Linked DNA regions of Homo sapiens. The protein of the gene in region 1 interacts with the protein of each later gene in a biochemical or structural test. Each region holds a gene or a part of one and is shown on either strand. Other genes may lie near its edges.

Region 1 (16,357 bases):
TCCTGCCTCAGCCTCCCTAGTAGCTGGGATTACAGGCGAGCACCACCACATTTTTGTATTTTTAGTAGAGATGGGGGTTTCACTATGTTGGCCAGGCTGGTCTCGAACTTCTGACTTCAGGTGATCCACCTGCCTCGGGTGGGTGGATTACAGGCGTGAGCCACCGCACCAGGCCAAGAGTAGCTTCTTAAAACACAATTTTAAAAATCCCAGAACCCAGGAAATTTGGCTTCTCCTTTTCCTCACCGACAAAGCTGCTAGAACTACTTAAGTTGAAAATTATTCAGATCCCTTCCCCACTTTCTCTACAAGGAAAAAATGAGAATAAGAATAGTCATCTGTACCTGGACTGGAATCACATTTTGCGTATACCACGGAAAACTTGCCATCTAGTTTCAACAGCTGGAAATCACAGTCTCCTTCGACAGCCTGGAGAAAGAAACCCACGTGAGGATGGCTGCCCTTCCCCTTCGCACCCCGGGCAGGCTCCCTCCAGGCACGGCTGTCAAAGGTGACCCTTGCAAAATCGCCTTTGCTGGGTAATACTGAAACATGGCACTCTCTGCTTTCAGGGATACAACGATATAGTTAAACGCTTGTAAAAATCAGCCCCAGGGCAAGTGGCATCAAATGGCAATTTTATTTATGATGATGATTATTATTATTATTATTTCGAGATAGAGATTCACTGTTGTTGCCCAGGCTGGAGTGCAATGGCAGGATCTTGGCTCACTGCAACCTCCACCTCCCGGGTTCAAGCGATTCTCCTGCCTCAGCCTCCCGAGGAGCTGGGATTTACAGGTGCCCGTCACCACGTCCAGCTAATTTTTGTATTTTTAGTAGAGATGGGGTTTCACCATACTGGCCAGGCTGGTCTTGAACTCCTGACCTCAGGCGATCCACTTGCCTCAGCCTCCCAAAGTGCTGAGATTATAGGCATGAGCCACTGCGCTCGGCCACAAATGGCAATTTTAGAAACTGCACCCTGGCTAGCCAAGAAGGCAGGCTGAGACGCTGGGTGAATCGGTGGAGCTGGCCGAAGGGCCACCTACAGTCATCCTAAGAAGGGTACTCACATGCTCCTTCAGCTGCCTCACGCTGCATCTTGCCACAGGGGTGGGGTCCAGCACATGGCAGGTGGTTTCCAGGGTGTCTATTTCAATCTCAAACAGCTCTCCGGAGGGCTGCTGTGGAGACAAAGAGTGAAGCCGTGAGCAACCTATTCCCCTGATCCTGTGGTGCGGTCCACGGTATGCGCCCTCATTGGGCTTGAGAGCACCCCGCTTTTGGAGAGGTGAGGGAAATGTCATTCTTACTGTCAGTCTGCAACTCCGTCTAGCTCTGAACTGGCCTGTGGGCAGGACAATGACCAGGGCTTGTCTGGTCTTCGTCTGTTGATTAAGGAAGCACCAGATGATGCTCGCAAAGCAGACGGGGTCCTGGGCTTGAACAAGTCGATGGAGCCACAGCCCTCACTCTGAGCTCTATTTGAAAACTACAAATGGGTGTTAACACTTATTTGTATTTATTATTTATTTAATTTTTTAAGATTTCACTCTTCAAGCAGTGCTTTGGAAAATGCAAGTTTGGATTTTTCTCAGACAAGCTGCAAAATAAGGTGGTGTAGGGTAATATCTTACTGTCTTTTTTTAATCTCCTCTATCCCTCCCTCTCCTTCTTTCTTTCTTCCTTTTCATTATTTGCTTTCCTTCCTTCCTCCGTTTTCTTTTCCCTCCTAGAGGTTTTTGCTGCTGTTGTCCTTGGTTTTTCCTTTGTCTTGGCTTGTGCAGCAGGTGCCGGCATGCAACGATGCTGCTCTCTACTTCCCCCTGCTGGCGATAATGGGGAAGGGCATGTCTCCCTCTGACAGGAAACTGGATGTCACTAGTGTAGACACGAGGGAGCTTGCAACAATCCTTGGAGATATTCTTGTGAGTTCACCTGTTTCTGTATCTTGTCTTCGAAGCCTGAAAAATCCAGAAGGTACAAGTATGCCTTTTCTCCTCTCAGCCCAGCTCTGTTTGCCTCTCATTGGTTCTGCCTGATTCACTAGTACCTGAAGCCTCAGCATCCCCTCCCCTGGGAGAAGCTCCGCATTTTATGATGTCCAGGTGTGCCCAGAGTGACTGCCTGAAAGCGTTCACAGCTCTGGCGAACAGGAACCGGGTACACCTGGGTTTCTCAAGGGAACCAACTCTGAAGCTCTGCCTTTAGTAAAAGTCACAATGCCCATTCATGATTACCTTTTCCCTCAGATGTGCGTGTTGCGTGTTCATTTCCCCTGACTTGATCAGCGTTTCCTCCTAACCACCACTGTGCTTTAATATGGCTGCAGCACTCTTAAAATCCATCCGGAGCAATCCTGATTTCAAATATTTTGTCTCTTTGTGAGACGGATGGCAGTCGTCAGTCGGTCCAGGCTTCCTGTTGTTGACCTTATTTTCCAACCTAGATTGTAAGCTCTTGTGGGCACATATTGTGCCTTTTTCACCACTGTATTAGGTTGAACCATTAAAACGGCCAATATTTGGTTGCTTTTGATATAGAAAAATGGCAGTTTTATATGGTTCAACCTAATATCTCTGGTTCTTGTCCAAGGAAGGCTTGTAATACATATTTGCTGAAAGAATTGTCCTTAATCAGAAATAAATCTAATTTCAAAACAGGCAGTAGGCAGACAGCTTCTTTCCACCTCTCCAAATCTCTTGACTGATCCCCGAGGCATATTTCCAGCTTGATTTTTCTTGTCACTGGCTTCAAGCTGCGTTGGTTTCCTGTCTAGTGTGTGAGGAGGTGAATTGTGTTTATGCCAAGACTTCTCTCTGGGATGTGGGTAACTCTCTTTGGGAGGCAGTTTGTGTAGAAGAAGGAACACAGATATGGAATCAAATCCCAGCCTGAAGACTTAGTAATTATATGATTTTGGACCAAAAAAAAAAAGACAAAAACAAAAAACAAAAAAACTGCACACACACACACAACAGAGCCTTGGTCTCCTCTTGGGTAAGACAAGAACAATATATGTACCACACAGCACCAGGAGGCAGGACCGGGAAAGAGTAAATGAGATAATCTATGTGAATGGGCCTGGCATATAGTAGGCATCTGCCAGATGCTAGTTTTATTCATTCTCAGTCTTTGTTAGAGAGAAACCAAACCAAAGACAGATACGTGATTTTCAGCCAGTGGTAACTTGGCAACTAGGAGCTGGTCTCTTGGGTCCTAGTTTTTCCAGCAAGTTACACTTTCTGTCTGTGATCTGCACACTACCATTTGAAGCACTTTTTCTCCTGCACACCACCTCACACCCCACCCAGCTCCCTCCTGACACCCATGACTGCCATACAGAATGTCTCCTCTCCTGCCCTCTGCCTGCCCCTTCCCTCACTCCTGGGAAGAAATCAGAGAATTTACTCCTCTGTGGTTTCATTTGCACTGGGTGATGGTGATTTTTTGAGGCACCTGATTGAGCTCCATGTACACATTATTTCAGCTCATAGACAGCAGGTCCACTTACCTGAGGCCACACCTTTACTTCATCAATCTGGTTCAAGGTGTGTTTGTATCCCCAAGGAAGGTTTTGATTGATGTAGTCTATAGCCACCAGAGCTGCTTCCTCAGTTTCTGGATCATCGCAGTTCGGTTGTCTATAAATCAGCCCTGGGCCATGTGGGGCTGAGTGGCAGCCCCAGAGCTGAGCAAGACAAAGGAGCAGGACGAGGGACTTCATGGCTGCCCCAGAGAGGCCCTGGCAGGCGTGCAGGTGGTTGGAGGCTTCGGGACCAACCCAGGTGCTCTGCTGGGAAAGGTAGACCCATGGAGGGTGGTGGGCTTTATTTATCTGTTGGAGCCTGCCGGAAGAATTGCATAAGGATACAGGATGATTTCTGCTTTGGTTCAAAAGAAAAAAAAAAACACCCTGCAAACATCAGCCCTGGAAAAGCAAACAGGTTAGGACATCGCTGGTCCCCAAGAAATCTGCCAAAGTCCATGCTGCTGTGGGGGAGATGCTCCAAAGTCTGCTTGGAACATGGTAATAGCAGCAAAGAGAAGACAGCTGAGGGAATGAGGTGGACACAGTCAGCCTCAGAGTGCCATGGGTTTGGCAGCAGAGGAAATGTCTTCTACTGTGATCTGAGCATGCCATGGGGTCTGTGAGAGGGAAGGGAGGATACTCAGCAATTTGATAAAATTCTCCAATGTCAGGGGGAGTTAGCTTTCCAAGAGGAGTCCTACAGGGAGAACAAGGCCCACAGATATAGCAAAGGTACAGATGTGTATAGGAGATGCCAAGATTTTGGGGGAAGATTCTTGGAGAAAAGAAAAAGGATGAGAGATGTTTCTGCCTAAAGTGGGGAATGGAGGTGGAAGAAGGGGGTTCCCGTGGCAGGACCACGGTGGGAAATGACCAGCAAAACGTGTGGGGTTCCCTGCCCCTTCTCTTCCTTCTCCAGACCTCACTGCCAGGGCCCTGCATGTGACAGCACAGATGGGCACTGACCAGAGTCTCCTAGCACTAGTAACCTAGTGCCCCTGCCAGTGCACAAGGGCAGCAGAGGGGAGTCCTGACTCATTTGACACAGCTCTGGGTTCGAGTCTGACACCGCAGGCTGAGATGCTGCACGAGCAGCTACGGACACAAATACCCCTTGAACATTCTTTGCAGACTCAGCAGAATTACAGTGTGTCTTTCTGGCCAGAACAGAGGGCCAGTGTTGACTCCAGGCACTGCCTATTAAGTGACCCTTGACAATTCCAAGTGTGACATCCAAGGAGGGTTGGCAGGATAAAGAGAGGCTTGGGAAATATCACACAAGGACCTGGTTTGGTTTAGTCTGAAGCAAAGAAGCCCTCTCATGGAGACCAACATGGTCTTCAAATATTTAGAGGCCATCATTGTGTGTGGGTGAATTTGTTCTAATGTTTGATATTGCTTCAGAGAAAAAAAAACTGGTTAAAAAAAAAAGAAAGAAGAGGGGCCCCTCCAAAGGGAAGCTTAATATTGATTTTCTGGGGTGAGAATCGGGGTGAGGGAGGTGAAGTGAGTGGTGATGGGGCAGAGAAGGTAGTTGGCAGGACTGTTCTCACATTTACTCCCAGCTGCTCACACACCACACCGAATCTTAATGTCAGAAGCTCAGAAGGTGTGGCCAGGACTCCAGGTTCTCTCCAAGAGGGGGACCATGATTCTTCCAGATGAAAAACAAACTCTGGTCATCCAGCAAGATGATCCTCAAAGCCAGGGGCAATCTTCCATCACCTTATACTCCATTTCACTCAGGGCCCTGACTCCTGAACTGTGTGTGGAAGCTATGCTTTTCTTTATATAATCTTTAAAAATATTGAAGGGCTGGGCACGGTGGTTCACACCTGTAATTCCAGCACTTTGGGAGGCTGAGGTGGGCAGATCACGAGGCCTAGAGATTGAGCCCAACCTGACCAACACAGTGAAACCCTGTCTCTTCTAAAAATACAAAAATTAGCTGGGCGTGGTGGCGCGCGCCTGTAGTCCCACCTACTCGGGAGGCCGAGACAGGAGAATCACTTGAACCCAGGAGGTGGAGGTTGCAGTGAGCCAAGATTGCGCCACTGCACTCCAGCCTGGCAACGGAGTGGGACTCCGACTCAAAAAAAAGAAAAATTGAATAAAGTGTGGTAAGGTGGCACACACCTGTAATCCCAACTATGAAGGCAGGATGATAGCATAAGACCTGGAGTAGGCTATGGTTGCAGTGAGCTATGATAGTGCCACTGCACTCCAGCCCAGCCAACAGAATGAGACTCTGTCTCAAAAAAGAAATCATTCACAATCTCATCATGCAGAGATAAACAGTGTTAATGTTTTGATGCATTTATATCTTTTCTTTTTTTCTATGTAAAATAATATTTTAATATAATTTTGATTATACTGCATATACAGCTGTTAAAATTTTTTCACCTATTGCTTTAACTTGAATATTTTCCTATGTCATTAAGTAGACTTAAAAACATGTTTACAGGCCAGGCACGGTGGCTTACACCTGTAATCCCAGCACTTTGGGAGGCCAAGGCAGGTGGATCATGAGGTCAACAGATAGAGAGCATCCTGGCCAACATGGTGAAACCCCATCTCTACTAAAAATACAAAAAATTGGCTGGGCGTGGTGCTGGACGCCTGTAATCTCAGCTACTTGGGAGGCTGAGGCAGGAGAATCACTTGAACCTGGGAGGCAGAGGTTGCAGTGAGGGGAGATTGTGCCACTGCACTCCAGCTTGGGCAACAGAGTGAGACTCTGTCTCAAAACAAAAAACAAAAAAAAACAAAAAAAAAACAAAAAACAAAAAAACAAAAAAACACACTTTTTTATTTAGGAATCTTTGGCTTTTGATTCTTTTTTTCAGGATAGATTTTTAGAAGTAAAATTATTGATTCTAATGATTTGCACATTTTTAAAGCTCTTAATTTTTATAGTCAAATAGTCTATTTGGCTATGCCAATTTATCCCCCTTCCATTTAGCTGTTGTGTGATGTCAGCTCAGCTGTTTTCTCTTTTCCTCTGTTACTGCTTTCATGCTGACTTTTGTGGGAACTTAGATATGTGAACACTCTCAGAATTCTTTTTTAAAAATGTAATTTATGAATATCTTTGCTTTTATCACAGCTACTCCATATGTCTAATACTTATAAACTAAAATAACTTTGGTATCAAGCTGAGTAAAATGATCCCTTAGATTTTTTCAGTTTCCTTAGAAAGAAATGTTGCCATTTACTTACTGGAAATGAGGAAGAAAATAGATGATATTTTGGTATGTTTTCCAAGATGGCTGTAGCATTAGTGCCAATGGGTAGTTCCCTGTGCCTGATGACACCAGTTTTAAACTTTAAAAGATTCTCACTTGCCAAATGTATATGGGACTCATGAGTGATCTTCACGTGCTGAATACATATACTCATGAGTAATCTTGGGTCAGTTTGATCCAACTGGCTCCAGCTTCTTTGCATATCAGTAGGAGATAGGCATTTCCTCCATTTTCTGGTCCTTTGCTGCATTATTTTAGTTACTTTTCTGTGCATTTTTCTATGAGGCTCACATCACAGCAATAAAATAATCCTCATTCCATTCACACTATGATGGCTGATAGTGTATTGAGGATATCAAGGGCTTGTTAGAACTGGTCAAGGAGAGCAGGCCCAACAGTCTAAGGAGCAGGAGAGGATCAACAATCTCCAGGAGATGGCAGCAGGGTGCCGGGCAGTGCTTGCTGGGTGCAACCCTTGTGTGGCTGATGGCAGAAATCTCAAGATGGCAGCTGTCTTAGTCCATCTGTGTTTCTATAAAGAAAAACCTGAGGCTGGGTAATTTATACAGAAAAGAGGTTTATTTGGCTCATGGTTCGCAGGCTGTACAAGAAGCATGACACCGGCATCTGCTTCTGGTGAGGGCTATAGGCTGCTTCCACTCATGGCGGAAGGCAAAGAAGAGCTGGCGTGCGCAAGCTCTTGGTGAGAGAGAGGAGAGATGCCCGGCTTTTTCTTTCTTTCTTTCTTTTTTTAACAACCAGCTCTCACGGAAAATAATATAGCAGGAATTCATTCATTACCACCAGGATGGCACCAAGCCCTTCATGAGGGATCTGTCTCCATGACCCAAACACCTCCCATTAGGCCCCACCTCCAACATTGGGGATTACATTTCAACATGAGACGTGGGGGGACAAACATCCAAAGTAGAGCAGCAGCTAAGGATGGCACCAGGGTTCCTGAATTTGTCAAAAGGACTCTTTGCCAGGGAGCCACTAGGGCAAGTGTTGTATTTAAACTATTCCAAGGCAGAATTCAGTGTTTATAGTTGCAGGCCAGGAGCCACAACAACAAAGATCACCAGGGTCAGAGCTCAGGGTCAGAGTTTCTCAGAGGTTGGTTCCATTAGTGGATGTGGGTATAGGAGGGAGAGGATAGATATAGAAAGATATGAAATATCCCGTCAGGCAGCAAGAGCTAAGGTGATAGCTAGAAACCAGCCTCTCACAAAACAGAAGATGAAAAAGTGCCTGTCAGCAAAAGCCAGAAGGACAACTGGTTTCTGTAGGGAGGAAATAGCAGTGGTTGGTTTTTAAATCATTAGGTCAGGTTCATGGCTCTGCCCTTTCTGGTACTTAAAGGGCCTAGGCCCTGATAGACTGGGTATTAATTTCACTCAAAGACTGGGTGTTTCTTCATTCATATGTTCAATGAACAAACATTTATTGAGCACCTACTATCTGTGTTATCAGATGCCTGGACACAGAGTGATGAGAACCACATGCTCTGGAGGAGCTCATCTTGACTCATTTAGTCCGGCAATGCCTGATCAGCAAAGAACTTTATGTTAATATATGAAACTATCATAATATTATTATACAAATTATCATATTTTCCTGTGGAGACAGGTTGGGATTTACTTCGCCAATGCAAAGCACCAGTGAATGAAAGCAAATTACCTTTGTCCAAGGACCCATCTGGTTTCTTGTGAAAGTAACTTAGCACCAAGCACCCTGGAAGTCATCAACCCATAATTAGGAAGAGCCCCTTGTACTCAGCACCAAAGTTGGGAGATGTGGGCCCAACCGCAGGTGGCAAAAATGACCATAAGTAATGGCTCCATCTTTTGGGGTGGAAAAAGGGCTCTGCAAGCCTTCCTCCAACGCTGCCCTGATAAGCAGGACCTAGCTCTGCAAATCCAAACCCCAGAAAGGAAATTGCATTTGAGAACATATAAAGGGAACAGTAAGGCCTGGACTAGAGTAGGGCAAGGGAGTGGGTAAAGGTGCAAATTTCAAGGAGGCCTCTCCCTTGAGGTTGCTGCTTCTTAAGTGTTGTGCTCTAGGCCTCTCTTGCTGTACCTTTGTCCTGCCCTGCGGAAGAGGCATAATCGAAACCCAGGATAGAAAAAATGTTTCTGGCTGGATGCGGTGACTCACACCTGTAATCCCTGCACTTTGGGAGGCCAAGGAGCGTGGATCACCTGAGGTCAGGAGCTTGAGACCAGCCTGGCCAACATGAAGAAACCCCATCTCTACTAAAAACACAAAAATTAGCCAGGCATAGTGGTGCGCACCTGTAATCCCAGCTACTCGGGAGGCTGAGGTAGAAGAATCGCTTGAATCCGGGAGGTGGAGGTTGCAGTGAGCCAAGATCGCGCCATTGCACTCCAGCCTGGGTGACAGAGTAAGACCCCGTCTCCAAAAAAGAAAAAACGTTTCTACTTCATCAAATATTTTTTCTCTTTCAAGGGAAGTTCTTTTAACATTTGGGCTGGTGATCCTATGTGTGCAATGGGCCCCAAAACACAGCAGTCCTTGCAGTAAACTTTTCATCATCACATAAGAAACAATGGGAAACCTTCCATTCTCTTTTGTACAATAGGAAGGAGACTTACTGCTACATACTGTTTAGTGTGGCCTTGACACTCACTTAAACATTCTGTCTTATAAGAGAATCACTTCACGGTTAAAGAAATGGGGAGATTTGAGCTTTCCAGGCCTGGAACAGCACCTGCTCAGGAAAACAGCATCATCATAGCTCCTGTTACTGACTTATTCATAAAAGGCATGAGAGCTGAACTATTCTTATCCTTCCTCCTTTACAGAGGGAAAAAAGGCTGAGAGGTTCTGGAACTTGACCACATCACACGCCAAGAAAATGGAAGGGCCTGGATTTAGCCCAATCACTTTATTTCTGTATTAACTCCAAACCAAAAGTATAAGGGACCCAAGAAAAGCTGAGGAGGTTGGCTGCTAGACACCAGTCTCCTGCTAGACACTAAATTGAGTAAATCATTATTCTTGAGAATAGAAAACATGGCTGCATTAAAAAAGGATGAGTTCATGTCCTTTGTAGGGACACGGATGAAGCTGGAAACCATAATTCTGAGCAAACTATTGCAAGGACAGAAAACCAAACACCGCATGTTCTCACTCATAGGTGGGAATTGAACAATTGAACAATGAGGACACTTGGACACAGGGTGGGGAACATCACGCACCGGGGCCTGTCGTGGGGTGGGGGGAGGGGGGAGGGATAGCATTAGGAGAAATACATAATGTAGATGATGAGTTAATGGGTGCAGCACACCGACATGGCACATGTATACATATGTTACTAACCTGCACCTTGTGCACATGTACCCTAGAACTTAAAGTATAGTAATAATAAAAAAGAAAACATGGCTGCATGTTGCTATATTAGAAAAGAAAACTGATTCAAACTCAATCTTGTTGATATGAAAATAAAAATGTAAAATATAAAAAAGAAAGGAATAGAAAAATGTATTGAGTTTGGTCAACAATTAAATAATTTAAAAGTTAGTTTGTGCCCATAATTTCAGTCAGTAGAAAATATCTGGATCTTAGTTTTTCCAAAAAACACTTTGACTTGTTGACTTTAGCAATGACTCAGCCGGTCTTAAAGTTATCTCTATTTCAGGTTTAGAAGGTAAATAAAGGGTAAATGATTACACTGTTTCTAGTCAGATGTTTTTCAGGGAAAATGGTAGTCAATGCATATAGTCACATCCATCTTTCCTGCTGGTTTCTGTCACCAGACTTTGATGTCTTCAAAGCAAGGCGAGTGAGTGGCACTCTTCAGACAAGAAGGAAGATGGCAGGTGAAATCATCTTCTTCTAATGAGCCCTGTGCTATGCTTGCTGATGTCCTTGGTCACGGAGATTTTCAGAAAAGCCATGGCCTTACCAGTGAAGGTTACACAGAGGCCACTGGAGTCAAGTAATTCATTGCTCCTTATTACATTTAGGCACTTCTTTATCCATCATGCAGGCTATTGGGATTAAAATGGGTCCTTTCAACAATGAGTCAATATTGAAGATTCTGTGGATCCATTTATTGACACATATTGGGTATTCTCTGGACACATTCCTTAACTTCAAAACTGTTTCTTGGACATTGTGCTAGGTGCTAAGGAAACACAAATGGAAGGTATAATTCTTGTCTTCTGGGTGTTCACTGTTGGGTCTGATGCCATACAACTATTGTGAACACACGAGGGAAGTGTAAGCTGTGGTTCTTGCCCTCAGCCTGAGGAGCACAGTCCCTGAGGTGGAAGGGTCTCCAGATGACAGCAGTGTCCATGCCTTATTTACCCTTGATTTCCAGCACCTGCCTCCTGCCCAGCACAGTTGGGCCCCAAACCTGATCACTGACGGGGTTGCTCTGGACCAGCCCATCACTCAATGCAGAGCTTCCTTCCAGTGTTTGGTGTCTGCTTGAGGATGTGGAGATATGAGGGCCTCTCTCCCACTCCTGCAGCCCATTCCATTGTTGCTTCACACTGATTACTAAGAGATTTCCCTGCCTGCCTTGTAACCTGACCAACAAACCCAGATTCTGCCCTCGGGAGTTACCCGAACTAAAACACTATACAGACTAAATCCCTGGTCTCTATATTATGCTTCAGGTATTTAGAGACATCTGTGCTGTATCTTGTTTTCCTTCTCTGGCCTCCAATATCCCTATTCCTTTACATACTTCTCAGGTGAATTAGTTTTGAGACTACATCATCATCCTATTGACCAGGCAAGACTAGCACCAATGATTAAATAATAGGATGAATCATCCTGTGATTAGGAGTGAAATTAATTCTTAGCTCTCTGAGTGGGTGTGATCTGGTGCATGCACATGTGTGTACATGTGGACAATTCAACAATTACAGGATGAAGATTAGCCAGCTGCTACTGGCAGGACAGGAGGGGTTCTCTTGGTTTTCAGAGGCATATCTGGACCCTCAGAAAGATTAACAATGAAACCAACAAACAAGTCCTTCTTCTCCATAGACTACCTTGATGAGACTTCTTGAATGTTGAGAGGGAAAATATATGAGGCTAATGGAAGACCCATAAGAGGGGACTAAGCCTCCTACTCTGCTTGGATCTGGCATGGCTCTTGGCTGTAGCATTTCTTCACTCTTTGTTGTCTGATCTCTTGAATACACTTGAGGATATGGGCAGTCTTTGCCTCTCATGCTCTTGTTAGAATAGTAAAAGGAGACAAATTGAAATTGAGAAGGTGCAGATCACAGGGACAGGGCAGCTAATGTGGGCAGTTTTCTGTCTGTGCTGGGATTATGCAACAGGCAGCGAGATCATTTGGTAGGTTAAACAACAGATTGAGCCTCCAGAATTTAGATTCTTTTGTTTTTGTTTTGTTTTGTTTTGTTTTGAGACGGAGTTTTGCTCTTCTCACCCAGGCTGGAGTACAGTGGCACAATCTCGCCACCTCCTGGGTTCAAGCGATTCTCCTGTCTCAGCCTCGAGTAGCTGGGATTACAGTACAGGTGCCCGCCACTACGCTCGGCTGATTTTTGATATTTTTAGTAGAGATGGGGTTTCACCATGTTGGCCAGGCTGGTCTCGAACTCCTAACGTCAGGTGATCTGCCTGCCTTGACCTCCCAAAGTGCTGGGATTACAGGCGTGAGCCACCGCGCCCTGCCAGAATTCAGATTCTAATGGAGACTGAGGCGTGGGAGGATGGATACTTGCAGGAAGGTAAGGGTAAGATGGAGAGAGGCTGGATGGGTGGGAGGAAGAGGTGTGGGAGCAACCTGATGAGGGAGCTTACATGGAGAATCAGGATAGACCCAAGTCCAAACCCTGGTGCCACTATTTACTTGCTATGTGACCTAACTAGAGATTAAATCTGGCTCTGCCTTTGTTTCTTCATCTGTTAAATACGGGCAGTAAAACCTGGCTAGTAGAGATGAGCTGAAAATTTAGTGAGATAACATTTGCAAAATGCTCAGCGTAGGGCCTGGCACAGGGTAAGGTATCAATAAATGGGAGTCCTTTTTTGTTGTTGTTTTTTGGGATGGAGTTTCACTCTGTCGCCCAGGCTGGAGTGCAGTGGCGCGATCTCGGCTTGCTATAACCGCCACCTTCTGGGTTCATGCGATTCTCCTGCCTCAGGCTCCCGAGAACCTGGGATTACAGGTGCCCACCACACCCAGCTAATTTTTGTATTTTTAGTAGAGATGGGGTTTCACCATGTTGGCCAGGCTGCTCTCGAACTCCTGACCTCAGGTGATCCACCCGCTTTGGCCTCCCAAAGTGCTGGGATTACAAGCATGAGCCACCGCGCCTGGCCGATAAATGAGAGTTCTTTATAGCTCTAATAATACACTAGGACTGAGAGCACAAAGAGGCAATATAGGGAACACTAAAGACCAAGATACGGTCTTTGCCTTCGAGTGGCCTGTCTCTAGAAGCGATACATCCTGGTGGCTAAGAGTAAGGGTTCCTTAGCTTTAACAACTCAGGCAAATTACTTAACTCACTGCATCTCATTTTATCCTTCTGTAAAAGGAATAGCAGCAATGTATACTTCAAAGGACTAATGAGAGCATTAAGTAATACGGTATGCTTAGCATTCCTGGCATCAGGTAAGCGGCTATATTACCACTTACTCAGACGGTAGAAATATAACAGGTAAACAGTGCTAGAGGTCACATCTTTTTCCATCAACAGGCTGGCAAAGAGAGGGTTGTGTGTCGGCAACTTCCTGTAACAAGAGGAACCGGAACAAAAGGGGGATAGTGGTACTGTAGGAAAGTAACCGATCAATCTTTCCCCATTCTTTGTGCTACAAGGAACAGCGGCCAACTCAGGGAACCCAATGAGGCAGGACTCAAAGAGAAGAAGGCAGTAGGCATAGGTCAGAGTGGCTGGTTGGGGCTCAGGATGCGAGTACACAGCTAAGTTTCCTGCAAGGTGGAGAAGCAGGCACAGAGGTGCTGGGACAATGAAACAGGGCTGAGGAAGGAGAGGCGAGCAGCTCAGAAGCTTCCCTGGGAGGGGATTCCGTAGGCATTTAAAAGATTGTGTTTGCCCAGTGGACTTTCAGCTTCCCATTGGAGTCTGCAAGTATAATCACCAGGGCTGGCTTTCCAGGTGTGTGTCCTGTGCAGGCCCCTGCACTTAAAAGGACCCTGTGCCTGTGGAATGTTCTGCTGTGGCTGTCTTGAAATTCTTTTTTTATTCAAGACAGAGTCTCGGTCTTTTACCCAGGCTAGAGTGCAATGGTGCGATCTCGGCTCACTGCAACCTCCGCCTCCCAGGTTCAAACGATTCTCCCGCCTCAGCCTCCTGAGTAGCTGGGACTACAGGCATGTGCCACCCTGCCTGGCTAAGTTTTGTATTTTTAGTAGAGACAGGGGTTCACCATGTTGACCAGCCTGAATTTTTAGCAAGGGCCCTGGGTTTTCATCTTGCATTGGGCCATGTAAATCATATAGCCAGTCATTAATCATAACTAGTACGTTAGAGGAACCAAGTGCTGTAGGCATTTGCAGGAGAGTGGGGGTGGGGTGGGGGGAGTGGATCATTTCCAGCTGAGGGTGGACAGGGGGAGAGGAAAGAAGGTGTTGTGGACAGGGGACACTTTGAATTTGACCCTGAAGGATGGGCAGGATTTGGATAGATAGAAATGGGAGTACGGCTATCGGTTGGAAGGAATATGTTGGCAAAGTCGAGGTGTAGGAGTATGGACTTTGCTTAGGGAATGGTAGAAATCCTTGTGAACCTGGAGTCTGCTCTTGAGCTGCTCACATCTAGGCCCTTCCACAGGAATGCCATGCTCAGGTGGCCTTTCTATAGGGAGCCTTTTTCAAGGTCTTTAAAATCCTTTCTTCCAATTACCACTCTGCTAGGTGCCTGCCCAACTAATAAATTAAATCCAGCCATGTTATTCATCGAAACCTCAAGGCACAGCTGGAGAAAAGCAGATTTTTTAAAGAATCAGAAATTTTAAATTGAAAATATGGTCACTGCCGGGCGCGGTGGCTCAAGCCTGTAATCCCAGCACTTTGGGAGGCCAAGGCAGGCGGATCACCTGAGGTCAGGAGTTTGAGACCAGCCTGGCCAACCTGGTGAAACTCAGTCTCTACTAAAAACAAAAATTAGCTGGGAGTGGTGATGGGCGCCTGTAATCCCAGCTACTCGGGAGGCTGAGGCAGGAGAATCACTTGAACCTGGTAGGTGGAGGTTGTGGTGAGCCGAGATTGTGCCACTGCACTCCGGCCTAGGTGACAAAGTGAGACTCCATCTCAAAAAAAAAAAAAAAGAAAAATATGGAATTGAGGCTGGGCGTGGTGGCTCATACCTATAATCCCAGCACTTTGAGAAGCCAAGTTGGGAGGACCACTTAAGCCTAGGAGTTTGAGAACAGCCCAGCAATATGGTGAGATGCTGTCTCTAGGAAAAACAAAAAAAATAACTGTTATGGTGGCGTGCACCTGCATTCCCAGCTACACTGAAGGCTAAGGTGGAAGGATTGCTTCAGCCCAGGAGGTTGAGGCTGCAGTGAGCTATGATCATACCACTGCGCTCCAGCCTGGGTGACAGAGTGAGACCCTGACTCGAAAAAATGGGAAAAAATTGTCATTTAAATAAAAGAAAAATACTTAAAACAGGTCAAATAATAGATCAAATACAGACCAAGGGAAAAATCAATTAAGAATCCCTATCAAGCTTGGTGTCATGGCATGTGCCTATAGTATCACCAGCTTCTAGGAGTATCTAGTAGCTGATGAGACTACTAGGAGCCCAGGAGTTTGAGTCCAGCCTGTGCAATGTAGCAAAACATGGAAAGAAAAGAAAAGAAAAGAAAAGGGAAGGGAAGGGAGAGAGAGAAAGAAAAGAAAGAAAAAGAAAGGAAGGAAGGAAGGAAGGAAGGAAGGAAGGAAGGAAGGGAGGGAAGGAAGGAAGTAAGGAAGGGAGGGAGTGAGGGAGGGAAGAAAGGAAGGAAGAGGGAAGGAAGGAAGGAAAGAGAAACGAAGGAAGGAAGAGAAAAGAAAAAATATACAATTCTCATCATCTATCTTGCTCTCTTGATCTTTTATATCACAACTTCTGTGTAGGGATTTGCACAGCTGGCAAGAGGTAGAGGCAGAATTCTGACCAGGATCCAAATCCTGCCCTGTGTCGTGTGCCCCACAGTGCGACAACTCCTGCTTCACTCCCTCAGGGTGGGTTTCCCCAAACAGAAGCCTGGAGTTGTTCAGAAAACAGTGCAAGTGTTGGCTCTTACAAAATCACCTAGAGTCATACCATAGTGACACAGATGAGAAACAACATAAAATGAAAAAGGCATTTTTCTTTTAAAAATCTCACAATTTCTACCCTCAACTGACTATCCTAAAATTTGCATTTGAAATTGTATGTCTATGAACATATGACTGTCATCACTTATATTAACTCAGCATATTGTGAATGACGTGCCAATGTACATGTTGTTGTATTCCTTAGATTTGCATAAATATTGAACCTTGCCACTTGCTCAACAAGCTTTGATTTTTCTTTTTTCTTTCTTTCTTTTTTGAGATGGAGTT
Region 2 (15,606 bases), on another chromosome or scaffold:
TTTTGACTTTCATTTCCTTTCAGAACCTTCTCAGATATTGTCTTTTTGTTCAATTTTCAAGTTTATTGAAATATATCACTTTCACATTCCAAAGTTATCTACTAGAGGGAGGAAAATGCACTTTTTTTTTCTATTTTCTCTAGACCTAGCATAGTTCCTGTCATATTCTAAGTACTCAATAAATATGTGAATTAGTGGAGTAAATGAATGAATGGTTAGATTAAAATTTTATTTTCTGTCATATAAACATGTTAAGATTGGAAGACAATAACCACACACACACACATACCTGGTTTTGTGGAAAGAGGGGGAAAAATAAATTACTTCAAGAAATTTTTTATATTTTTCACATATCTTTGTCAGACCAAGTGGCAATATGGGTGCTTTATAAAGTAGTCATCAATATAAACTTTTACAGAATTAGATGGAGTCATTTTATGCTGCAATTCCATGTAAAAATGGCCTTAGCTATAGAAGTTGTATGTGTTTTCATGATTTTCTAGTTAAACATGCTGGTATAGTGCCTGAGGCTCAATGAGACCTCCTGCAGTTTCAGGAATATGCTTTCTTTATGCTATAAGACTGTTTGTTTATAACTGTCAAACCACCAGCAAGTTATCAACTCACATTCAAAACAGGCACCAAGCCACACTTTTGTTAATGTGAATTCTTGAAGAAAACAGAAACTAGACTGTTTTTGTAAGTTTTAAACTCATAAGCCAAAACACAGGGATTTAAAAAAAAAAAAAAAAAAACAATGATTTCTTTCTCAAGAGGTTTTTTTCTTTCCTTGGTGGTGTTCAAGCAAGAACTGTTTTGGAAATGCTGACAGGATCATAGCAAAGGCATCCAGAGGGAAACATATAATATGTTTATTTATCTTAGAAACCACAGAACATTGCAAAAGGCCAAATTGGCCCTGTAAAATGTGTTGCTAACATGTACAGTATGATTGCTTAGTTTGGACAAAGTCAAGTCATTTCTGTGCTGATAAAGAAGGATCACAATCTATATTCCGGCATCTCTAGAATTTATGTCTACAGCTCAACCCTTTCCCTTGAGCTCCAAAATTCTAGATCTAAATCCTCCTTGACACCTCCATATGGAAGTTGAATATGCATCTCAAAAAGAACAGATTCAAAACCAGATATTTGATTCTCAGTTCTTCCAGCTCAACCTCCCAGTCATTACCATCTCAGTAAATGGTGACTTCATCCTTCCAGTGGCCCAGGCCAAAATTCCTGAAGTCATCTCTGTTTCTTTTCTTTCTCTCTCATGCCCCATCTGATCATTCAGCCATCCCTGGCCTCTCTACCATCAAAACAAACCCCATATTTTGATCCCTTCTCAACAATTTTTCTACTATTATCCAGGTCAAAGTCTTCATCATCTCTCACCTGATTATTGCACTAGCATCCGAAATATTCTCTCTTGGCCTATTCCTGTTACCTTACAGTCTATACACGCAAAGGGATCCTCTCAAAGACAGTTGAATCAAGTCACTCCTCTACCGAGACCCCTCTAATAGCTCTCTGTCTTACTCAGAGTAAAAGCTCATCTTTACAATGGCCTAAAAAGTCCTACAGGATGCGATTGTCATTACCTTTCTGACCTTGTATCATATATTATCTCTTCTTGCTCACTTTACTCTGCTCACGTTTGTCCTCTCTGCTCTTGTTGGAACGTGCCATGTATTTTCCAAATTCAGGGCCTCTTTTCTTGGCTTGCTCCCTTCAGTTCTTCATCTCCCTGCTCAAATGTCACTCCTGATAAGTCCTTTTTCCGACCATCCTATATAAAATAGCAAGTCTCACCCCCTTCACATCCCTTATTCCCCAGTTCTGCTTGACATTCCTCCACTTTAATTGTCATGTCCTGGAATGTCTCCTCCTGCTGCAACATCTGCTTCAGAGGGCAAGGCATTATGCACTGCTGTGTCTCTGCCACTAGAACACTGTCAAGCACACAGTAGGTTATTAATAAATATTGGCTGAAAAAATGAAGTAATATGTGCTAGTAGATATATCTGATCAAGACAAAAAAGTTGGATTATTTTGACATTTTTGAGTGTATTTTAAAATTGATTTGTGTTTCTATGCTTGTTCCTGATGGCCTGGAAGCATTCATTCAGCCCTCACAGTCACTGCAGAATGTGTGGCCTGGGAAGAGTCTCCTGATCTCCAATGCCTAAGTGATTGATGGCAGTCATAATACTCAGGAGGCAACTCACCCAGTCCTTTTCTGGTTATCTTATACTGGGGTAGGGTGTGCATATGCCCTTTCTTTTGGCTCAAAATTGTTCAACTTCTTTGAAGGTTGTTTTAGTTTCCTGAATGCGTATGCTTGTATATGGTTTTAATAAGTTTAGTGTTCTCCCTTTCTTGATTTTACTTTGTTTTCCACTATTATACTTTGTGGTGTGAAATTGACAGTCTGTCACAGACCTGTGATTTGAAATAATTGTGACAGATGGTGTGCTTGAATACATAAACAGATCCACTAGAAGGAATGTTTTAGCAATAAGTGTGGAAACTTAAAATTGAGCAGCAAAATCAAGAGTGAAATAACTGCAATGTCGACTCAGCAACCTCGAATGTCTGTGCTGCAGGAGAGTCTGAAGGACAGTGAAGTCTTGTGAAGAGTTGTTGTGTGTGTGAAGGGGCAGTCTTGGACTGGGACTGCCTGGAACATTGGATGAATGAGAAATGACTGTATAAAACATTTTTAGTTTACTTGAGGGATTAGGCAATTCTTCCTTCGTATAAAGATAAGATTATGATATCCTGCAGCTGCCTCTGCAATAAAATTGTGGAATAAACCAGTTTCTTGGAAAAGCATTATGGAGAACGGTAAAGGAATATAAAAAAGATAATAGTGATGATTCAGACAAATGAATGAGCAGAAGAAGAGGAGATCCAAGTTATGCCTAATTTATGTCATGAGAATTACATAGTAACATTTATTGCCAGATCAAAGTCTTTGAAGAAAAATGCTTTAAAAGATCATGAATACTGTGTTCTGGAAAATCTGTGTCACTTGAATAAACTAAGATGGCTGTACTGAAGACAGAAAGTGGTATGGCCTAGGCTAGCATAAATGTACAACAGAGGCCTTTCCAACCAGGAGGGGTCAGAGACAAATTTTTAAGTTTCCAACCTTTTATGTGAAGCACCCATAATCGAACAACAGTTTTAATGAAAACAAAAAAATTAAACATTTAATAAGGAAAAAAGAAAGTGGATATTAATGATTAAGTTGTGTCTCCTCCCAGAAGATATGTTCAATATCAAACCCCCAATACCTGTGAGTCTGACTTCATTTGGAAATAGAGTCTTTGCAGATATAATCAAGTTAAGATGGGTTCATACTAAATTAGGGTGAGCCTTAATCCAATATAACTCATGTTCATAGAAGAAGAAGAGAAAAGACACAAACACATGAGAGAGAAGGCCATGTGAGGGTGAAGATGGAGGCATAAATTAGAGTCACGCTGCCATAAGGCAAAGAACACCTAGATTTAACCAGAAACCTAGGAGGAGCAAGGAAAGGTCCTCTCCTAAAGGCTTTGGAAGGAATCTGACCCTGCTGACACCTTGATTTTGAATTTTTAGCCTCCAGAATTGTGAGAAAGTAAGTTTCTGTTGTTTTAAGCCACCCAGTTTTTGGTACTTTATTATAGCAGCTGTGAGTTCCTTACAGAGGCCAATAAGCAGGAGACAAAAGACAGACATGGTACAATAGGAAACGAGAGGACTCTCTGCTGACTTATTTCTCCAAGTGTGGACCAAGAAGCAGCAGCATTCCTGGAAGTTTGTTTGAAATGCAGAATCTCAGACCTCGATCCAGAACTGACACATAAGAATTTCCCTTGAAATGATTATAGCTCGAACTGTGTGCCTGTAATAACAATGGCAGTAGCAACACCATAGTTGAGCCCTTTCCATTTACTCTACTTTGATCTATAAGTTATATTCTACACTCGCTAACTGAATTCACACACCAATCCATAAGACATGTACAATTAATATTCCCATTTTATGGACAAGGAAATGAGTCACAGAAAGGTTAACTAGCTTCCCTTAGTCATGCAAATAGTAAGTGTCGAAGCCAAAGAAATCAGCTATATTTATCTTTATTTCAAAGGAAATAAAGATACATATATATGTATATATGCAAAAAGATATATATATAAATATATATATATAAAGATATATATGTGTGTATATATATAAAGATATATATGTGTGTGTATATATATAAATATGGGGGGAAGTTGTGTTGACAAGAGTGCTGGAGAATCAGGCCTGTTTCTCATTTTGATACTGAACAAAATTAGAAGTAGCTTGACTACTGGAAAAGTGTGTTGGATCTGCCTTGCAGATAAGTGTCCAAAATGGTCTTCCCCTCTTTAGATTTCTACTTATTTCTCACCACACTTGTCAGTTAAGCAGCAGGATATCTGCAGGCTTTTCCCCATAAGAGAAAGGCTGCAGCATAAAGGGTATATCATTCAAGGCTATAACATGGAGTGTGCATCATTGAAGGCTACAACATGAAGGGTGCGTCACTCAAGGCTACACCATAAAGGGTGAATCATTCAAGGTTACAATAAGAAGGGTGAATCGTTAAAGGCTATAGCATGAAGGGTGCATTATTCATGGTTACAACAGAGAGAAGGATGCATCATTCAAGGTCCAGCTCTGAACAACAACAAAAAAAGTCCATTTATGGACATGCACCTTGAATTCCTGAATGTCTTCCAATAGAAACCACCTATTCAACTGTAGTCATGAGAGGAGGATCTCTTGGGAGATGAAAAAGAGAAGAAAAAGAGAGGTTTCTTCCCTCTTATTAAAAATACTGGAAAATTCAGATTTTATGGTCCTGCAAGAATGTGGAAAGATGGAAAAGAGTAACTTTCCCTAATGTTAATATTACCTCGGGATATGTCAAATGTAAATGAAAATTATTGCTTCTGTTTCAGAAGAAGAAAAATAGTTTGATTAAGCCTCCTTTATGCCAACCTGTCAGAGGTGTGTCCCAGCATACGTCTTGGATTTTGAACTTAGTCCCTGTCTTGAATAGTGCCTCCCCACCAAATCTTGCTCTTGAACTATTATGCATCTATGGAAACCCACCTCAACTGTTATCTCCTCAAGTTTTTCATGTTCCACTGCACTCATTCTGCTACTATTAGCAGAATTGATTACCTCTCATGTGAGCCACTACTATAACTTGCACATATTTCTATGACAAAATTTAGTCCACCATATTTCAATTATTTGCTATACTTAATAAATTATTTAAATTTACACTGTATTTCAATTATTTTTTCCCATATGAAACTATGATTTATAGGGGTTTTAACCATCAAATATCTAACTTCATAGAAGACAGAAACTATTTTCACATATTTGCTTATTAATTGTTGATAGCACAAATGTACAATTTGATAAATGTTTACTGTAAGTAAATCATCCCCAGGCTTATTAAATTGTCTGCATTGATAGTTGTTTATAAATTCTACAGAAAACATTTCTAACATGGGTGGTTTAACTAAAGAAAATACTTACGTCTAATACATCTAGTAATTGTAGAAATGTTCAGCCTGATTACATGAAGTCACATGATAGTTTTAATATTTATTTAGCAGAGGGGTAAATTGAAACATCAGTTCTCTAGACCAGTCAGGAAATGTATGCTTTGTGCTTTATAAGCTTACATTCAACATAGATGACATAAGTTACCATACTCAAATGTAAGATAGGGAGAGGTAGAAGAAATAGCTGAGAACTTGAAAAGATGTACTGTTATTGTCAACAAACCAATGTCTTCTCCCTTCATAAAATTGTGTTTAGGGAATATTAACAATTAAGCTTGTATACAATAGTAATTTTGAATGTATTTTTAAATTTATTTTTTCAAAATAATGACATTAGTAAAAATTTTACATAGCCTGTATTGAATTCACACATTCAAATGAGGCTTTACCAGTAATGATGGGGATTAATACAGAGCTAGTGTTTGGCATTTGACTTTATCTCAAATGAGCTAACTGCTCAATGAATTACAGAAGACTCATACTCTTTTTATTTTTTCCTGGAAATTAAAAAAGAAAAGCTTTACTAAATATTGACATATATATTTACTCCAAATTTTACATTTAGTGAAATAAGAATATCTCTAGTAGCTCAGTTAACATCAACAGAAAGCTTCAAAAGATGATTCTGAAAATGGCAGGCAAAATTTCTTTTTATTGTAGGCAATTACTTAAACTGGAAATTTGGCTTTATGCATAATAAGTCATGTGGGTAAAACATCCACATTGCAGTTAGGTTTCCAGTATCTAGCTTTTATTTATTTTTTAGCAATGACATTAACAAGATTTTGCCAGGTTATAAAAATGAGGGCTTTCTTGAGAATTACTTATAGTTTCCGAGTTGAATGGCAGAGCGCACGTAGACACATCTGAAGGTGGATGGCTGTATCTCCCAGTACTGGACCGGGTTGCTGAAAAGACTCACACCCGAATAAGAAGCCTTTTTGGTGTTGTGTCCAGGTGGGCAGAAGTCACTTGATCCAACTACAGAGATATTGTTGTTATGAAGGTAGACAACCTACAACATGAAACGATAGAAAATAATTATTATTCTCTAAATATGTTGAGGCCCTTCAGGTAAACATTTTATTTTTTTTATTATTTTTTAATCCTTCACTTTTTTTTTTTTTTTTTTTTTTTGAGATGGAATCTTGCTTTGTCACCCAGGCTGGAGTGCAGTGGCATGACCTCAGTGCATTGCAGCCTCTGCCTCACAGGTTGAAGCTATTCTCCTGCCTCAGCCTACTGAGTAGCCGGGACTACAGGCACACACACCATGCCCGGCTAATTTTTGTTTTTAGTAGAGTTGGGTTTTCACCATGTTGGCCAGGCTGGTCTAGAACTTCTGACCTCAAGTGATCCGGCCACCTCAGCCTCCTGAAGTGCTTGGATTACAGGCGTAAGCCACCACGACAGGCCCCACTTTGAATAACTGACTACTTCTCAGATTAAACTTTTGATTTCTCCCTTCCTTTTGAAAATTTGCTTTTCCCTTCTTTAGTCTTGTCTTCCCCATCTCAGTAAATTGCATGCCAATCATTTCAGATGCTCAGGCTATATACATTGTCATTATCCTTGAGCTCCAATTCTCTTATGCTCTCTACATAATCAACAACAAATCTTGCTAGCTCAGCCTTCAAAATGTACACTTAATCTAGTTCTCTCCACCTCTACTCCGACAACCTTGTCCAAGTCACCATTGTTTCCTTCCAAATGATTGAAGTTGCCCTGATTATTATTCCTGCTTCCCCTTTTGCCTTCCTAAATTTTATTCTTTTTTTAAGCTCTCAGAGCAATTGCTTTAGAAAGTAAACCAAATTATATGTTCTTTGCCTCAGAACTCCAGTGGTTTCCAATCTCATGCAGAATAATAAAATCTAAAGTTCTCAAAGGGGCCTACAAATCCTACATGATCTGACATCCTTCTACTCTGACCTCCTTTTCTCTTACTGTAAAAGCCAGTCATCTGGTCTACTTGCTGCTCTTCTAATGCACAAAGCATGATCTCTTCTTAAGTTATCAACACCGTTTACTCAACCTGGAATAATCTCTAAGGTGTCTTCAAGGCTTGTTGCCTCATGTAAGTCGTTTTTTCTTACCAGAGAGACCTTCCCTGACCATCCCATTCTGCCATTCTCTGGGGCAGAATTACGTTACATGTTTTTCTTCATAGCATTATCAATATGTAGCATATTATGCTTATTTGATATTGTTTGTTTCTCTCCTCTAGAGTAAAAGCTCCATGAGACAAGAATGGTTCTGCTTGTTTATGGCTGTATCTCCAGTACTAGAACAGACCAGGTGTTCAATAAATATGTGTTGAATGAATAAATGTTATTTCATATATCAGGTCTACATGACTATATTGGGTCTACATGAAATATTATGTTTTCAGGACAAAAAATATATACACCTTTTAACAAAATGATATAGAATGAGAAAGTGCTGTGTAGTGAAAAAGAAAAAGAGAGCATAAAGTACTGGAATTGAAATAAAGAATCACAAACTCCAAGAAATTCTTAAATATTTAAACATCACAGCATTTAGAATAGACCTAGGAAGTTTTAACAAATACATATTTTACGTAATACGTTTTACTTGAATACAGTGCAATATAATTAATCAGAGTTTTTTTTCTGAATTATGTTTTACAATCATGTTTAAGATAATGGTAATTTGGCCATAGATTTTCTTAGGGTCCCTAAAAACCGGAATTATACAAAGAATGTTAGAAATGAGTTTACAGTTCACTTTGAGGATATGAGTTCTGTAGGTCAAGAAGCAACTTCTCTGAAATCATACAAGCAAGGTTAGAATATAACACTAAGACAACAAGGTCTTTTTTTTTTTTTTTTCTGAGACGGAGTCTCGCGCTGTTATCCAGGCTGAAGTGCGGTGTCGCAATCTCGGCTCACTGCAAGCTCCGCCTCCCGGGTTCACGCCATTCTCCTGCCTCAGCCTCCCGAGTAGCTGGGACTACAGGCGCCCACCACCACGCCCGGCTAATTTTTTGTATTTTTAGTAGAGAGGGGGTTTCACCATGTTAGCCAGGATGGTCTCGATCTCCTGACATCGTGATCCGCCCACCTCAGCCTCCCAAAGTGCTGGGATTACTGGCATGAGCCACTGCGTCCTGCCACCAACAAGATCTTAAGTGAGCTATAAAACCTATGAAGTACTCCCTTAAAACATAACTTGAAAGCCTGGGCGTGGTGGCTTATGTCTGTAATCTCAGCACTTTGGGAGGCCGAGGCGGATGGATCATGAGGTCAGGTGTTCAAGACCAGCCTCACCAACATGATGAAACCCCGTTTCTACTAAAAATACAAAAATTAGCATGGCATGGCGGCACGTGCCTGTAATCCCAGCTACTCGGGAGGCTGAGGCAGGAGAATTTCTTGAACCCGAGAGGCGGAGGTTGCAGTGAGCCGAGATTGTGCCATTGTATGCAGTCCAGCCTAGGTGACAGAGCGAGACGCTCCGACTCAAAAAAAAAAAAAAAAAAAAAAAAAAAATTTGAAATATTGTTCTACCCACTAGGACATTCACATTCATGTGCTGGTGAAAACGGCTTTGTTTTTGTAAGGGCTGAAAAGCGAATTAGTAGATGTCATATAAAAACAGAAACAAGGAATATTAAAGTGAAAGCAACACTTATATGTATGGTTTATGGTTCTCATATTTTGGAAGTTTCTTGTTGTCATTTACCATCCTCTATATTCCAGTAGTGATTAGCAAGTAAAGGAAGGGGTGTTTGGTGAGCAATTTATGGTTAATATTGAAAGTGAGAGAACAAAATATCAAGACGTAAGTATTAGTCTGTGTAGAACAAAATAAAAGTAGATTCCAAACTCATTCTATGGGGTCAATATTTTCTAAGACCAAAGCCAGACAAAATTCATCATAAGAAAAAAAAATGTAATCAAATACCTCTTATGAATATGGACAAAAAATCTTTCACAAAATGTTAGGAAGCTACATTTCACAACATATAAAATGATTTCATGCTATAGGACCAAACATGATTTATCTCAGGGTTGTAAAATTGGTTTAACTTATGAAAATCAATCAAAGTAATATCAATGTAATACACTATATCAAAAATATAAAGGCCAAAACTCGCATGATTATCTCAATAGAAGCAGGAAAAACATGTAAGAAAAAAATTCATAATAAATGTTTTCAGTAAATCAGAAATAGAAGGGAACTTCCTCAACTTGATAAAGAGCATCTATAGAAGACCTGTGGCTAACATCGTAACTAATGGTAAAATGAATGCTCCCTCCTCCTAAACTAGCAAATAAGGCAAAGATGTCTAATTTCATCACCTTTGTTCAACATTGCACTGGCGATTCCAGCCAATGCAAAGGGTGGGTTGTGGGGGAGGGGGAGACCTAAAAGAATCCAAATAAAATAACTAAAGCTGTCTATTTTTAAATAATATATCCTGAATATAGAATATCCAAAGGAACTCACAAAAATTACTGCAACTAAAAACAAATTTGGCATAGTACCAGGATAGCTCAATATATAAACATCAATTGTATGTTTATACATTAGCAGCAAACAAATAAAAAAATTAACAATTCAAAACAGCATCAAAAAGAATGAAAAACAATGAATGTAGTAAAAGAATTGCAAGGCATGTATGCTAAAAATGACAAAAACTGTTGAGAAAAAGAAAAGAAGATATAAATAACCCTTGTTTGTGACTTGGAAGGCTCAATATTATTAAGATAGTAATTCTTCCCAATGATCTGTAGATTCAAAACAATACCTTTCAAAGCCTTACAAGAATATTTTTCCAGAAATGAAAAAGTAGATCCTAAAATTGATATGGAATGCAAAGGAACCAGAATAGCCAAAATAACTTTGAAAAAAAAGAACAAAGTTGGAGAACCTACATTTTCTAATTTCAAAACGTAATCAAAAGCTACAGTAATTGAAGGGTATAATACTGTCATATGACTAGACATATAGATAAATGTAATAGAATTGAAAGTCCAGAAATAAACCCTTACATTTATGATCGAGTGATTTTCAACAGTGACAAGACAATTCATTGGAGAAAGAATATTATTTCCAACAAATGACATTGGGACAATTGCTATCACATACAGAAAATGAATTAGACTCATATCATATACTAGGATTATCTCAAAATTAGATTATAAAACCAAATACAGGAGTTAAAATTATAAAATTTCTAGATGTTAAAGTATTCCTGGAATCTACACAAAACTATGGTCTATGAAACAAACAAAAATGATAAAATAGATTAATGATTCCCTGTGGCTGGAGATGAGATATTATCTCATGCCAGTCAGTATGGTGATTATTAAAAAGTCAGGAAACAGTAGATGCTGATGAGGCTGTGGAGAAATAGGAGTGCTTTTACATTGTTGGTGAGAGCATAAATTAGTTCAACCATTGTGAAAGACAGTGTAGCAATTCCTCAAGGATGTAGAACCAGAAATACCATTTGACCCAGCAATCCCATTACTGGGTATATACCCAAAGAAATATAAATCATTCTACTATAAAGACATATGCACACATAATGTTTATTGCAGCACTATTTTACAATAGCAAAAACATGGAACCAATCCAAATGCACATCAATGATAGACTGGATAAAGGAAATGTGGTACATATACACCGTGGAATACTATGCAGCCATAAAAAGGAATGGGATCATGTCCTTTACAAGGACATGGATGAAACTAGAAGCCATCATCCTCAGCAAACTAACACAGGAACAGAAAACCAAATACTGCATGTTCTCACGCATAAATGGAAGTTGAATGCTGAGAACACACGGACACAGAGAGGGTAACAAAACACACAACAGGGGGTAGGGGGTGAGCGGGCGAACTTAGAGGATGGGTCAGTAGGGCCAGCAAACCACCATGGCACACGTATACCTATATAACAAACCTGCACATTCTGCAAACGTATCTCATTTTTTTTTTAGAGGAAATAAAGAAAAATGATGAGGCCATGTCAAAAAGAATCAGGAGCTAGACCAAAGAAGCTCTTTCCAGTCAATTCTTGAATAATTTGAAAATTAAAATTAGTGACAGTAAAAAAAAAGAATTTTTATTTTACTTGTGGCTTCAAACTCCCCCTACTCACTATGGCACCAACATCACCACCCCTACTGAAAAAAATATCAGCATTACAGAAGACTTTAAGTTTCATCTCCATACTTCTAAATCAAAAACTTTATTGAAATCTAGCTAATGTAAATTGTGCTTCATGATTTAATTTTTTTTATGGTATTTTGTCATAGAAATTCTAACTAAGACACTCTGGAAAAAAAACTTCTAAGAAGAGCTTCCTGCTTCCCAGCATCCCATAAGCAGGGTGGGGGTCTTGCTTTTTGGATATTCCTCACATAAGCAGTGGCTTTGCATTACCTGGATGTACTTATGCTCTGCCAGCCCACCAGGTACTCTGGTAAGCTTGTTGTTGTCCAAGTGAAGCTCCCTCAGATGAGGCGTGTTGGCCAGAGAGCCATTGTCAACAGCAGAGATGCTGTTGAAACTCAATCCCAACCTGCAACAGAAAGCAGAAATGAAAGCAAACACCACACATGGATGCCTTTCTTACAAGCATTGTGTAGTTAATCAAGTCTATAGGAAAGGACATTTTTTGTTTTTGCACTTACTCTTCCCAGTTCTTGGAGTGCTTTCTCCAACCTCTCTGAGCCTGGACAAAGTCCATTTATTGTTAAGGTCTCGGCTCAAAGTTACTGTCTTTGAGATTCATCTGACAGAACGTGATTGGACATAGTCTCCTATTCCTTATAATATCCTAAGTTCCAACATCAAATTATGGTCAACCATAATATTGGAACATAATATTCCTAATAGTTTATTTTTAAAAACTGTTCACTTATTCAAACATTTATTTGTATATTTAATAAACAAATATTCTTGAAAACTTATGTGCATGATATTATGCTAGGCATTGTGAGGGACAGAGGTCTCATGGATCAAAAACCACTTTTCCCATCAAAGAATATTTTACCTAGTAAAGGAGTTGATTATACACACACACATGCATATATATATATATACACATTCAAAGATATATTTTATATTTATTTATCCACCATGAAATTTATATATAACAACAGGAATGAGTAAATCTGGCATGATAGTGTGCTTCTCTGTAGGGACAGTCAGCAATATGTACAGATCAAAAAGAACATAGTGTTCCTTGAAGACAAGTGAAAACGTTTGCCAGATTGAAGTTATGTTTGAAACCAGGACAAGTACTAGTATCACTTATTTTAAAAAAAATCATTAAGAAGGGCCAGCAAAAACAACAACAACAAAAGCTTTTCTTTTGTTGATCTACATTAAATGCCCAGAGATATTTTATTTTAAACTTTTCAGAGAAGAGGGGGTTAGAGAATCTCATAATTATTAAAATAGTAATTTGTGTGATGCTCAATATTTCTCTGTCTTGGTAGATTTCATTTTAATGGATTTTCAAATTCTAGCAACTGTGTTATAATTTACTTAACTTTCTGTTTGATGCAAATAAGTTAGAACATATTAAATGCACATATTGATTTAATCACACACTTTGTGTATAAAATATAACTAATCTATAAACAGTATAGTATTAATAAAATATGAAGCTGATCTTGGTGGTTTTAGTAAGGGCACTATTTCATTGGCTTCTTCTCAAGAAATAATTGGATATGCTGAAGTTTGAGATTATAGAAACAACAACAGCAGTGAAATGTAGTACACTCAAAAATCAATCATCATGTTTATAATTCTTATCATATAAGCACTAATATACCTAGCCATTGTTCTGATAGAATGTCATGAAAGAATATTATTACTTAGCCAAATTATTCAGTCCTTTCAGGCTAGCTGCATCAACTCTGCTGATTTTGTTGCCATCAAGATGTAATTCCGTAAGGGAAGGAGGAAGACCTGGAATGTGGAATTAAAGATGTTAAATTAGCAGATAAACATTATAAGTACAGAATGTGGACAAACTTAAAGAAGACATATGCCATCAATTTTCTAAAAGACACACAGTTTCAAAGAATCAGCTTTACTTTTATCTTTTTTTTTCATCCCTTTTATAATAATGTGTGCTTTTGGAAGTAGTGGAAGCCCTTGCTATTTTTCTCTTAGGTTGACTTTAACAAAAACCTGGATGATTTCTATCATGTAGTCAATTTTTGTTCTTGGAATAGAAGAACTGAAGTCAACGCTGAGTCTCATTATTCTCTTCCACCTTTGTTAATGGGCTAAAACTGACGTTGATAAAAGATAGTAATTATAAAGTGGGAAAGTCACTATTCGAACCATAATGAAGAGATTACGTATAAATTAAACCCATGTACAAACTTAATTGTCTATTTCATTAATGAGCATCATTAAAAATTAACACTGATATACTGTGCTGGTCTTAGCCTTAATTGACTTTTCCATAAAAGCATCAAATACCTCTGCAAAATGTCTGTGTAGAAACAGCTAACATTTACTTATGCCTATTAAATCCAGAATGTTTATGCAGAAGGAGTGGAGAGGTCTATAATCAAGTGATCTGCCATATGTGGAGCACCTGGGGTAATAATTTTACATCCAAAGTACCCACTAAACCTCTAGATAGTACTTGCATGGCTGTGATTTCCAAAGATCGAGTATTATAAATATAAAAGTTTAAATATTTTATTTTCATTTCCTCCTAGCATCTGAGGCTGTATTATATTTTATACAGCTTTTAAAATAACATATTGTTCCACTTAATAGCAATAGATACAGAGAAAATAGCAAATTGGTTAAGTGTAGAAAGAACATCTGATTGGCAGAAAGTCTTGGCTATTTGTCTATAAAGACACAGAATTGAAAAACCACAGGTTTCATTTTGTCTAAAATTTTTATCACATCACACTGAATTCTGTCAATATTGTCCATTTAATAAAATAGTTTAGTCCATATTTGACTTGAAAATGATTCTTAGTTTCCTATGGTAGCATATTTTGTGTTAGAGCTGCTAGGAAAAGGAACATCTATTTATTGTATGTCTGTTACGCACCGAACATTGACCTTGGCACTTTTCCTACTTCAAATCCTTTAAGCCTCTCAAAACATAAATTATTGGTCACTAATCCCTTTTCACAGTTAAATAAATAAGACTCAAAGTTACAAAGTAATTACAAAGTAATGCAAAATGTATATTTTTTAATGCAGTGCCTCCAGTACACCAATTGCTATCACAACCATCGGCCTTACTTAGTTTCAAAGTGTCTCCCTTTTTGGGATGTCAGTTTCCCAAATGTAAAGTTATAGCTAAGAAGAAGTTTGACTATGGGAGAAAACCTTGCAATAGGTTTGAGATAGACAAATTTGTAAAGTGCATCATTAGCTTCTGCAACTGTGGCATTGAGTTAAAGAACCCATACTCCAGTTATTTTATTTATTTGTTTGTTCATTTATTTTAAATTTTCTTTTTTCTTTTCCTTTTTTAAGATAAAATATATTGAGGTTTACATTGGGCCAAGTACTTGCGTGTACAATACAAGCCTTACTTCTATAGAGTAATCCTCACAATAATCCTAGTAGACAGGGTTATTAATAGCTCCATGTAACATCTAACAAACCTGAGGTTATAGAAATGCAGAATAATTATCCTAAAGTCACAGTACAACTAAATGACTGAGTTAGGTCTCTCACCCAGGTTGATCTAAGTGTATGATTTTTATAGTCTCTACACTACTTTCTACTGCCTTTCCATTTCCATGAGTGATGGGAGAAAATATCACCAGGAGGTTGCTGATATTCAGGCATAGGTATCCCAGCCTAAGCAAGGTGGAATCATGTATTAGATAAGCATAACGATGAATAGAAAGGAGGACTTAATATGCCAACAGAGTGAAATAGTTAAACACACGAGTTCTGACATCAGCACCACACAATTCCATCTCTGCCGCTTCCTAGCTCTAAGAACTTAATTACAATTTTCTTTACCTGTTT

What was found.
Region 2: the proteins of AHSG (region 1) and DCN form a complex in vitro, tested with the Homo sapiens proteins (one study listed by BioGRID).

Annotation. Positions count from the first base shown.
Region 1 is NC_000003.12:186,600,515-186,616,871, reverse strand, and holds the start of AHSG (alpha-2-HS-glycoprotein isoform 2 preproprotein), read right to left. Parts: upstream 3,813-16,357; 5' UTR 3,731-3,812; coding exon 3,518-3,730; intron 1,188-3,517; coding exon 1,077-1,187; intron 430-1,076; coding exon 345-429; intron 1-344. UniProt on the Homo sapiens protein: Promotes endocytosis, possesses opsonic properties and influences the mineral phase of bone. Shows affinity for calcium and barium ions.
Region 2 is NC_000012.12:91,139,636-91,155,241, forward strand, and holds the end of DCN (decorin isoform a preproprotein), read right to left. Parts: intron 13,555-15,606; coding exon 13,461-13,554; intron 12,158-13,460; coding exon 12,019-12,157; intron 6,618-12,018; coding exon 6,423-6,617; 3' UTR 849-6,422; downstream 1-848. UniProt on the Homo sapiens protein: May affect the rate of fibrils formation.